Linked DNA regions of Homo sapiens: regions 2 and 3 are each linked to region 1. The links come from fine-mapping of genetic effects on gene expression. A gene starts in region 1. Each other region holds a variant in brackets. All regions are shown on one strand. Distances are from middle to middle.

What was found. PIP is the estimated chance that this variant, and not a neighbour inherited with it, causes the effect.
Region 2: its variant is fine-mapped to the expression of MARVELD1 in whole blood (TOPMed, PIP 0.96).
Region 3: its variant is fine-mapped to the expression of MARVELD1 in whole blood (TOPMed, PIP above 0.99).

What each region holds. Positions count from the first base shown.
Region 1 is chr10:97,712,385-97,715,136 of GRCh38, reverse strand. It overlaps MARVELD1 (MARVEL domain containing 1), which reads right to left and starts at 1,407. Exons shown (of 2, transcript NM_031484.4): 1 at 1-1,407. The coding sequence starts at 1,260. The coding sequence ends at 739. RefSeq lists a silencer at 516-735 and an enhancer at 1,046-1,095.
Region 2 is chr10:97,797,464-97,800,215 of GRCh38, reverse strand. No RefSeq gene overlaps it. Among named protein-coding and RNA genes, the nearest start is that of SFRP5, 27 kb to the right of the region's middle. The variant A/C (reference allele first, on the strand shown) is at 1,276.
Region 3 is chr10:97,686,319-97,689,070 of GRCh38, reverse strand. AVPI1 (arginine vasopressin induced 1) reads left to right here and starts at 1,830. Exons shown (of 3, transcript NM_021732.3): 1 at 1,830-2,305. RefSeq lists enhancers at 786-1,739, 807-2,006, 1,740-2,693 and a silencer at 1,464-1,843. The variant G/C (reference allele first, on the strand shown) is at 1,630.

The DNA of each region.
Region 1 (2,752 bases):
CTTAAGGACAAAGGCGGAGTAGGTAGAGGCAAGAGGAGACTCCACAAGTGTAAGGGTACAACCCACCGGCTTCTCCTATCGGTCCCCACCTCGGCGGATGGGCCCCACCCCAAGACAACCGAGCACAGAGAGACCGGCTGGGAGGAGCTTCGCAGGATGCCAGCACAATCCCCAGCTAAAACCAAACTCGTCGCTCATCCTGGGACCAGCCAAGGCCTGTCCTCAGCTCCGCCCGCGGCCCAGCGCCTGCGTTTTACAGCACCGGAGGCTGGATGAGGGGCCAGGGAAGGGAGTGCTCTTCCGACCACGGGGCGGGAGGGAAGGGGGCAGCCAGAAGCCTGGTTCCAATTTGGGAGCCTCCCCCGGATCTGCGCGGCCCCTGTCCACGTCTTAGTCTCAGCAGGGAAGGGAAGAGGAACCGCGAGGTTTCGCCTCGGGGCGGCTCGTCTGCGAGTGTGTGTCAGCCCCTCGGATCGCAGCCTGCGCTTGTCCCGGGAGACGGCGCGTCCGGCGCGGCGGTCGGGATTCTGGGCTGGGATTCTGGGCGGCGGCGGCGCTGCCGTCGGGCGGGAGCTGAGCGTCAGGGTTCCCGGGCGCGGGCGACAGTGGAAACGCTGGAGGGCAGGGAGAGGGTGCCAGGGCGCACCCGCGCGGGGCGGCGGCGGGGGAAGGGATTAAGGAGGCTGGTCTCCGGGGATTCCCCCGCCCCGATCGGGGCCGCGGCGGGCGCGGGCGGCCTCACGCCACCTCCTGCTTGCCCTGGCAGCGACGCCCGCAGCCATAGAGCGCCGAAAGCAGGTAGAGGCCGTGGCAGACGCCGCCGCAGACGGCGGCCGCCAGGAAGGCGTGGTAGGCGCAGGGGAGCGGGTAATCCTTGAGGTTGCAGTAGCTGTGGCGCTGCATCTGGTCGCTCATGATGCCGGTGGCGGCGCCGTAGAGCGCGGCCGCCAGCACATCGTGCGCCACGTTGACCATGAGCCAGCGCGAGCCCAGCACGGGGACCAGCTCGTGCTTGCCCAGCAGCGTGAGGAAGTAGAGGCCCAGGGTGAGCAGCCAGAAGAGCACGGACACGAAGAGCGCGAAGTGCACGGGGCCCTGGTACTTGCTGGTGGCGATAGTGATCCAGAAGGCAGCGCCGGCCAGCAGCTGCAGCAGCCGCAACACGCCCAGCGGGCTGCGCAGGAAGGGCCGCTGCAGGCGCACCGCGCCGCGGGCCGCACGCGCCTGGGGCGGCGGCTGGCGCGGGGGCGGCGGGAGCATGGCCCCTGGGCGCGGTGGCGGCGGCGGCGGCGCCCCGAGCAGCGGAATGGCGGCGCCTTGCTCGCGGGGGCAGCACGGCCCAGGTGCCCGCTGCGCCCGCCGCGGCCTCCTCGCCTTGCTCCCCTCTTAGTCCTCTCTTCCTCTCCTCCTTTCCCCACCCTTCCTCTCCTCTCTCCTCCCCTCGGCCCTCCTCGCCTTCTGTCTCCAGCTCTCCACCCTTCCCACCCGCCCCTTTCCCTTCCCCTTCCCCTCGGCTGTCTCCTCCCCCGCGCGCTCCTCCCGGCTTCCTGCCATCTCTCTTTCCATCTCGCTCACCACCCTGGCGCCCCCCTTTCCCCTCTGCGCCAGGCCCCCAGCTCGGATTCCTTCGTCCTCGGGCCAGGGCAGGGCGCATCTCCCAGCCCGACGCGGGCCTTCCGCCCTGTCCGCCCGTGCGCTGCTGCGCCAAGTTTGCCACATCTGGGGCCGCCCCTGCCCGCCCTGCCTCCTCCTTTTCCCTCTTTCCTGCCATAGCGCCCACCCCGGGCCTCTGGGCTCTTCCTGGGCGCGGGAGGAGAGCAGTGCTGGTTTTGAACTGGCATCCACTGTCACCTGGACATCCGCAGTCTCCTGCCAGGGCCCGCCTCGTCCTGTCCAAAGCTGTCCGAGTTACCCATGTCGGAGTAAGAGTCCATCACCCACCAGAGGCACCGCCACTCGTTCCACTCGGCACAAGCTTATTGTCCACACCCTCTTTTATCCAACCCTTCCTTGCCATCCTTCTGTCTTGCCCACATTCAAAATACGCTACCTAACATGGCTGGGACACAAACCCAGGGCCAAGAGGAAGCAAAGCCCACGGACTTAACTACTAGGCCGAACTGCCTGTGATGGAGGCTAACGATGCTTTACATTATTATTATTCCGTGCCACCGCTTTACCTGAGTTCTCATTTAACCCTCAAAACAACCACAGAGATACACGCAACTCCCCTCATTTTGCTGAGGAGGAATGAAGCCTACCTGGGTTCAGACCAGGAAGCTGGTAACTACCACCAGTCTCTCTTCTCTCCTTCATGCTCAACCTTTGTGCCCATGGCATCTTTCTTTTTTCTTTTTCCTTTTTTTTGTGGGGGGGGGGGTGGGGGGCGGTGGGGTAGAGTACTGTTCTGTCGTCCAGGTTGGAGGGCAGTGGAGCAATCTCTGCTCACTGCAACCTCCGCCTCCCGGCCTCAAGTGATTCTCCTGCCTCGGTCTCCCAAGTAGCTGGGACTACAGTCGCGAGTGCCACCACACCCAGCTAATTTTTGTATTTTTTTTAGTAGAGACAGGGCTTTGCCATGTTGGCCAGGCTGGTCTCGAGCTCCTGACCTCAAGTGATCTGTCCCCCTTGGCTCCCAAAGTGCTGGGATTACAGGCGTGAACCACCAAGCCAGGTCATGACATCTTTCTAAAAGACAGACCTGATGTTTGTTACACTGCTTCCCCTACTGAGACAGGACAGAAGCTGTCTC
Region 2 (2,752 bases), 85 kb before region 1:
CCTCCTGTCTCCTTCCTTTGCCCATTTGGCAGATGAAGTTACTGAGACCCAAACATCATAGAACCACAGGCTCCCACAGAATGCCACTGTTAGGGGGAAATCTAGAACCACGATGTTGTCCAGGGGTTCACAACAGGCAGCAGCACTGTCCCCTAGAAGCAGGTAGCAAAGACCAGGGCTGTTGTGGTGGTAACGGAGCCTAGGTATGCTACTGACATTTAACACACACGGCCTGGGAGTGCTAAATGTCCGACATGGCAGAGGACAGTTCTGCACAGTGAAGAATTGTGCCACCCAACACAGAAGGCACTGCCAACAGTGCCTTCTCCCCAATTATAGGTGAAGAACTGAAATCCAATGACGAAAAGTGATCCGGTCAAAGTTACGGTGGCAGAAACTTCCAGTTGCCTTCCAAATTCCCTTTTTCTTGTCTTCCTTAGAAAAAGAACCCCGCAACCAGCCCAGTGCTACCCAGCTCAGAGGTTCCATTTCCCAACTTCCCTGGCAGCTCCATGTGAGTGGTATGCAAGGTCCAGTCCATGAGATTAAGGAGGTTTATTCTGCAGGACTGCCAAGAAGCCTCCTTAAATGTGAAGGTATGCCTTTCTCCAGCCTTTCTCCTCCCACACCTAAAATGCAGGTGCAGCTTGAGTAGCGTCTTGGGCCATAAGGCCCTGCACTAAGGATGAAGGAGCAGCAAGGTGGCTGGTGTCAGCACAAAGTTTATCTCCACCCCAAGAGATAAACCCAGCTACAAAGCTGCTTAAGCTCAGCTACAAAGCTGCTTTGTGGACTTTCTCTACCAGGGCTATGACCAGTGTTCTACTTACTTAAGGGCAAAAACACCTCATTATCATCAAAGAACCCATAGGATGAGTCACTTAAGGAATGCTCTGCCACATGCTTTTTCTTCTCTCCTGAGACTTCTTTTAAAAGTATGATAAGTCTTCTCACTCTATCTTCTATGTCTCTTACATTTGCATCTATATTTTTCATCTTTAATCTCTCTGTGCTGCATTCCAGATAGTTTCTTAAGACCTAACTTCTAGTTCACTAATTCTCTTTTCAGCTGTATCTAAACTGCTGTTAACCCCATTCTTTGAGATTCTAATTTTTTTTTCAGAGCTACAGTTGATCACAGCCTGGTCACAGCCTGGGTAGCACTGAGCTGGAGGTAGAGTTATTTTTCTAAGAATAAAAGAAACAATGGACAACAGAAATAGGTCCCAAAGTACATAAAATATGGGTATTATCAGGTAGAAACTAAAACCAACT[A/C]GGCTTAATGTATTTAAAGAAATAAAAGTCTTCTCACACATGTCTGGGTTTTTTTTAAGTCTAAGTTTTAAAATTTTGGCAGGGAATAAGTAACTATAAAAAGTGACATAGCAAGTCTGAAAAAGAACCAAATAGAAATTCTAGCTCTGAAAAAAAAAAAGTTAGGATCTCAAAGAATAGGGTTAACAGCAGTTTATATACAGCTGAAAAGAGAATTAGTGAACTAGAAATTAGGTCTTAAGAAATTATCTAGAATGCAGCACAGAGAGATTAAGAATGAAAAATATAGATGCAATTATAAGAGACCTAGAAGACAGAGTTAGAAGACTTAGCACACTTTTAAGAGAAGTCTCAGGAGAGAAGAAAAAACATGCAGCAGAGCATTCCTTACTCTATCCTATGGGTTCCTTGATGATAGTGAGGTGTTTTTTTCCTTAAGTAAGTAGAACACTGGTCACAGCCCTGGTAGAGAAAGCCTAAACTTTTCCTTCTTTGTCAAATCCCTCTCCTAATTTTCAACCTGCAAAAGTCTGGGCAGAGGAAGACCTCATTAGCCTCTGGCTGAAGCCTGAGATGGCAGAGTTTTGTAAGACACAGGAAGGGGCATGGGGGTTGGTACTCTGTTACCTTGGGCAGTAGAGAGGAGTATATGCAAGGACCGGGATAGGAAACCAGATGGGAAAGGTGCAAAGAGGTACCTATGGGAGGGGTCTGAGGAAGCCTGGGAGAACAGAATTCAGATCTAAGAGAGATCCTAAGAGCCTCTGAAGGTTTCAAGTGCACTTAACTGTTTCTCCCCAGAGTGTCTGATTTCCTGTGGCCCAGTCACCCTGACCCTCAGTTGGAATCCCACCACCCTTCCAGGTGGTTCCAGTGGAATGAAACTAAAGCAGCTCTAGACTGCATCTCCCTCACTCATGGCCTCATCTGGTCCACAGAGAACATGCACACCTCCTTTGCTTCACCATCCATAGAAGAGGAGCTGGCTCCCAACACAGGTTTTTTTTCACTTGCTGTCTTTGCTACACCTTTTCAGGCTGAAAGCCAAAGCCCTTCCCATTAGACTCCTTGGGTTCATGTCATGATCCTTGAGCCTCCCAAACTCCAAGAGACACACCCTAGGCTCCTCCAAGGGGTTTCCTTGTAGCCCATCTTATCAGGCTTGAGGGGAGGGGTAACCTCCCTCCCTCACAGGTTGGCACTAAGGGGTTGGGACTCACAGCATAGCCTTCTACAAAGAAATTCTCTCAAATTTCTCCCAAATCTCCAGATCCTGACCCCGTTTTGCCATCTCCCCAGTTCTCAACCACAGTGTGCTGCCCACAGCTCCTTCTGCATGTGGCACCTTTGTCTTCGTGCCTCAGTCAATACTGGAAGAGAAAGAGTCCTGACTTAATATCTCATTCTATGTGTCACTGCAAGTAAATAGAGAAAAAAATCAAGAAAGAGATGGATACTGCACAGTGCTAACAATAAT
Region 3 (2,752 bases), 26 kb after region 1:
TGAGGTCAGGAGTTCAAGACCGGTCTGGCCAACATGGTGAAACTGCATCTCTACTAAAAAATACAAAAATTAGCCAGGTGTGGTGGTACGTGCCTGTAGTCTCAGCTACTCGGGAGGCTAAGGCAGGAGAATCGCTTGAACCCAGGGGGCAGAAGATGCAGTGAACTGAGATGGTGCCACTGCACACCAGCTTGGGCAACAGAGTGAGACTCTGTCTCAAAAATACAAAACAAAAAACCCTTTTAGCCACAGCACAACAACACTTACGCTGTTTTTGTGCAGAAGGACAGAGAGAGGAACTGGAGATCATGGGGTGAGGACAAATAGCTCCCAAGCATCCCCTTCACGCTGCAACAAGGAATTCACAAAGCCCCATGTGCTGGCTCTTCCCCTTCCCACCCACAACTTTTACAGAAGAAAAATCAAGCTTAAATGGATAAGAGGTCAGCTATGAAGTAAAAAGGAAGTCAGGGAGACCCAGGAGCCTTTCCTGAGCATTGCTGAACAAGTGCACAAACACTTCATCTTCCAAGGACAAAACAAGCATTTATCAGAGGCCTACTGGACACCCTGCCTCCACTCCTGCCCCCTCCAATCCAAGTTCCAAACTGCAGCCAGAGTGACCTTCTAAAAACACAAACTTGTCATGATGATGAAATTTGCAAAGTGCTGACTGACACTACTGGTACGTGGTAAGTACTATAAAATGCCCGTTACATAAACACAGTACATATAATGCCATTCCTTGTTTAAACCCCTCCAAGGATCACATGCAACCTTCTCTGCCTGCCTCTGCCTTCTACTTCCCACCGTGCTCTCTCTTGCTAGCCTTACTCCGGGTCGCATTTAATTCCTCCGGAGCCAAGCTACCTCCTGGCCCAACCAAATGCCTTTCCCTCTTTCCTTAAAGCAGTCTCCCCAGATCCACTCCTCTTCATTTGACCAGTTTCAACTCCTTCTTTATATCTCAGCTTAAATGCTGCTTCTTCAGCCCTCCTGAACCTCCCAGAGGAAGCTTAGGTTCCTCCATATTTATCCTCTTATAGCCATAACATTGATCACAACTGTAATCACATACTCCATGTTTTAGGTTGTTTAATGCCTGCCTCCCTTACTAGGCTGTAGACTCCCCAGGACAAGGGCTATAGGTCTTTCCGTCTCTCTTGTTTACGGCCTATCAAGGAACTCGGACAGCATAGGTCACTAATGAACATTTCCGAATGCATACAAACTTTAAAATACGGTCTTGTTTAGGTAACCGGCCCAAAGTCGCACAAATGACCCAATATTTGAACCCACGACATTCTGGCTTTGAAGCCCAAGGTCTGACTCCAGCAGACTGCCCCCTCCTCTCCCTCAAAGCCGGAGCCAAACGGTGGGCTGGGAGGGGACTTGAGCGGCAGAGTCTGAGGATCTGCAGAGGGCCACGCGCTGCAAGGCAGTCAGTGCCGCGCGCGCTGGCCTCGGGCCCAGGAGAAGGGGCATCCGTCACGTGTACCCGGCAGGGCCAGCTTTCGCCGCACCCTGGGGCAGGAATGCAGCCCCGCCCAGCTCCCGCGCCAGCAAAACCGCGCTGGCCCTGGGGACTGACGTCAATGAAGGGGGCGCCTCGGGCGCCGCGCGGGGGCG[G/C]AGAGGGCGGTGGGCAGGGCCCGGGCAGACACGCCCCCTCACCGCCGCTCCGCCGCCGATTAGGTTTGAGGAAGCTTCGCACTCCGCTTTCGAGGCCAGCGGAGGCGGGGGGCGGGGATGGACACGCCCCCTCCCTGTCTCCCACCGATGATTGGCGCACGGAACTCCGCCTTGGGTTTGGAAGGCTCGCCTGGGAGCTCATACCTGGCTAGGGCCGAGGATTGGCTGTTCCGGGGCTAGGGAGCGCTTTCTCCCGGGAACCGCGGCTGTGACCCAAGTGGCCCGGACCAGTTTGGGGCTGCGTGCGGCCTGCCTCAAGCAACCAGGTACGTAGGTCGGCGGCCCAGCTCGGCGCTGCGGTGGGAGCCGGAGGGCGACAGTCAGAGCCGGGGTGCCAGCGGGACGCGACCGCCAGATCCACTTAGGACCCCGTCGTTCTGCGAAGCGGCCACGTCTGAGTCCCGGGGCCTCCTCGTGCTGCAGATGTCGCCTTAGGACCTCGGCCAGGATACCCTCTGCCATGCTCTTGTGCTGCCCGTGATCACCGACTGGCCCTTGTAAGCACCTTCGCAGAGCTGCGCCTGCCCTTTCTGAAGGCTGTGGAAGAGGTTGGAGTGGGCGCATCTTAGCTTGCCCCATCCCCATTTGAGGTCTGTCGGAGCTGCCCTTCAGTGTGGTGAGTACCTGCTCCAATTCTCCACCGGGCAGTGGAGTGCAGAGGGTACAGAGGCTAGCTTGGGAGTCCTGACTTTGGATCCCTCCCTGCTCCTTCCACAATCTACAGAAGCAGATAGCCTCCGAAAGGCTTCTGGGACCGACCTTCCCCAGAAGACCTCCTCAGCCATCTGGCAGGAACAAAAATAACAGTGGCTTGAGAGCCCGGGTGCTGGGGTCAGACTGCCTGGGTTCATGTCCCAGCTTCCATCACCTGCCAGCTGTGTGACTTTGGGTGTAGCTTTCTCATCTGTAAAATGGGTATAACAATAGTGCCACCTTAAGTGAGGAGGAAAGAAAGCACCCATCTGAACGTGCTCTGTTCTGCGCTTGACACTGAACAAGCTGCCTCTATGATTTTAATCATAAAGCTATGATTTAAAAGTACACAGATTTGTTGATGGCTGTG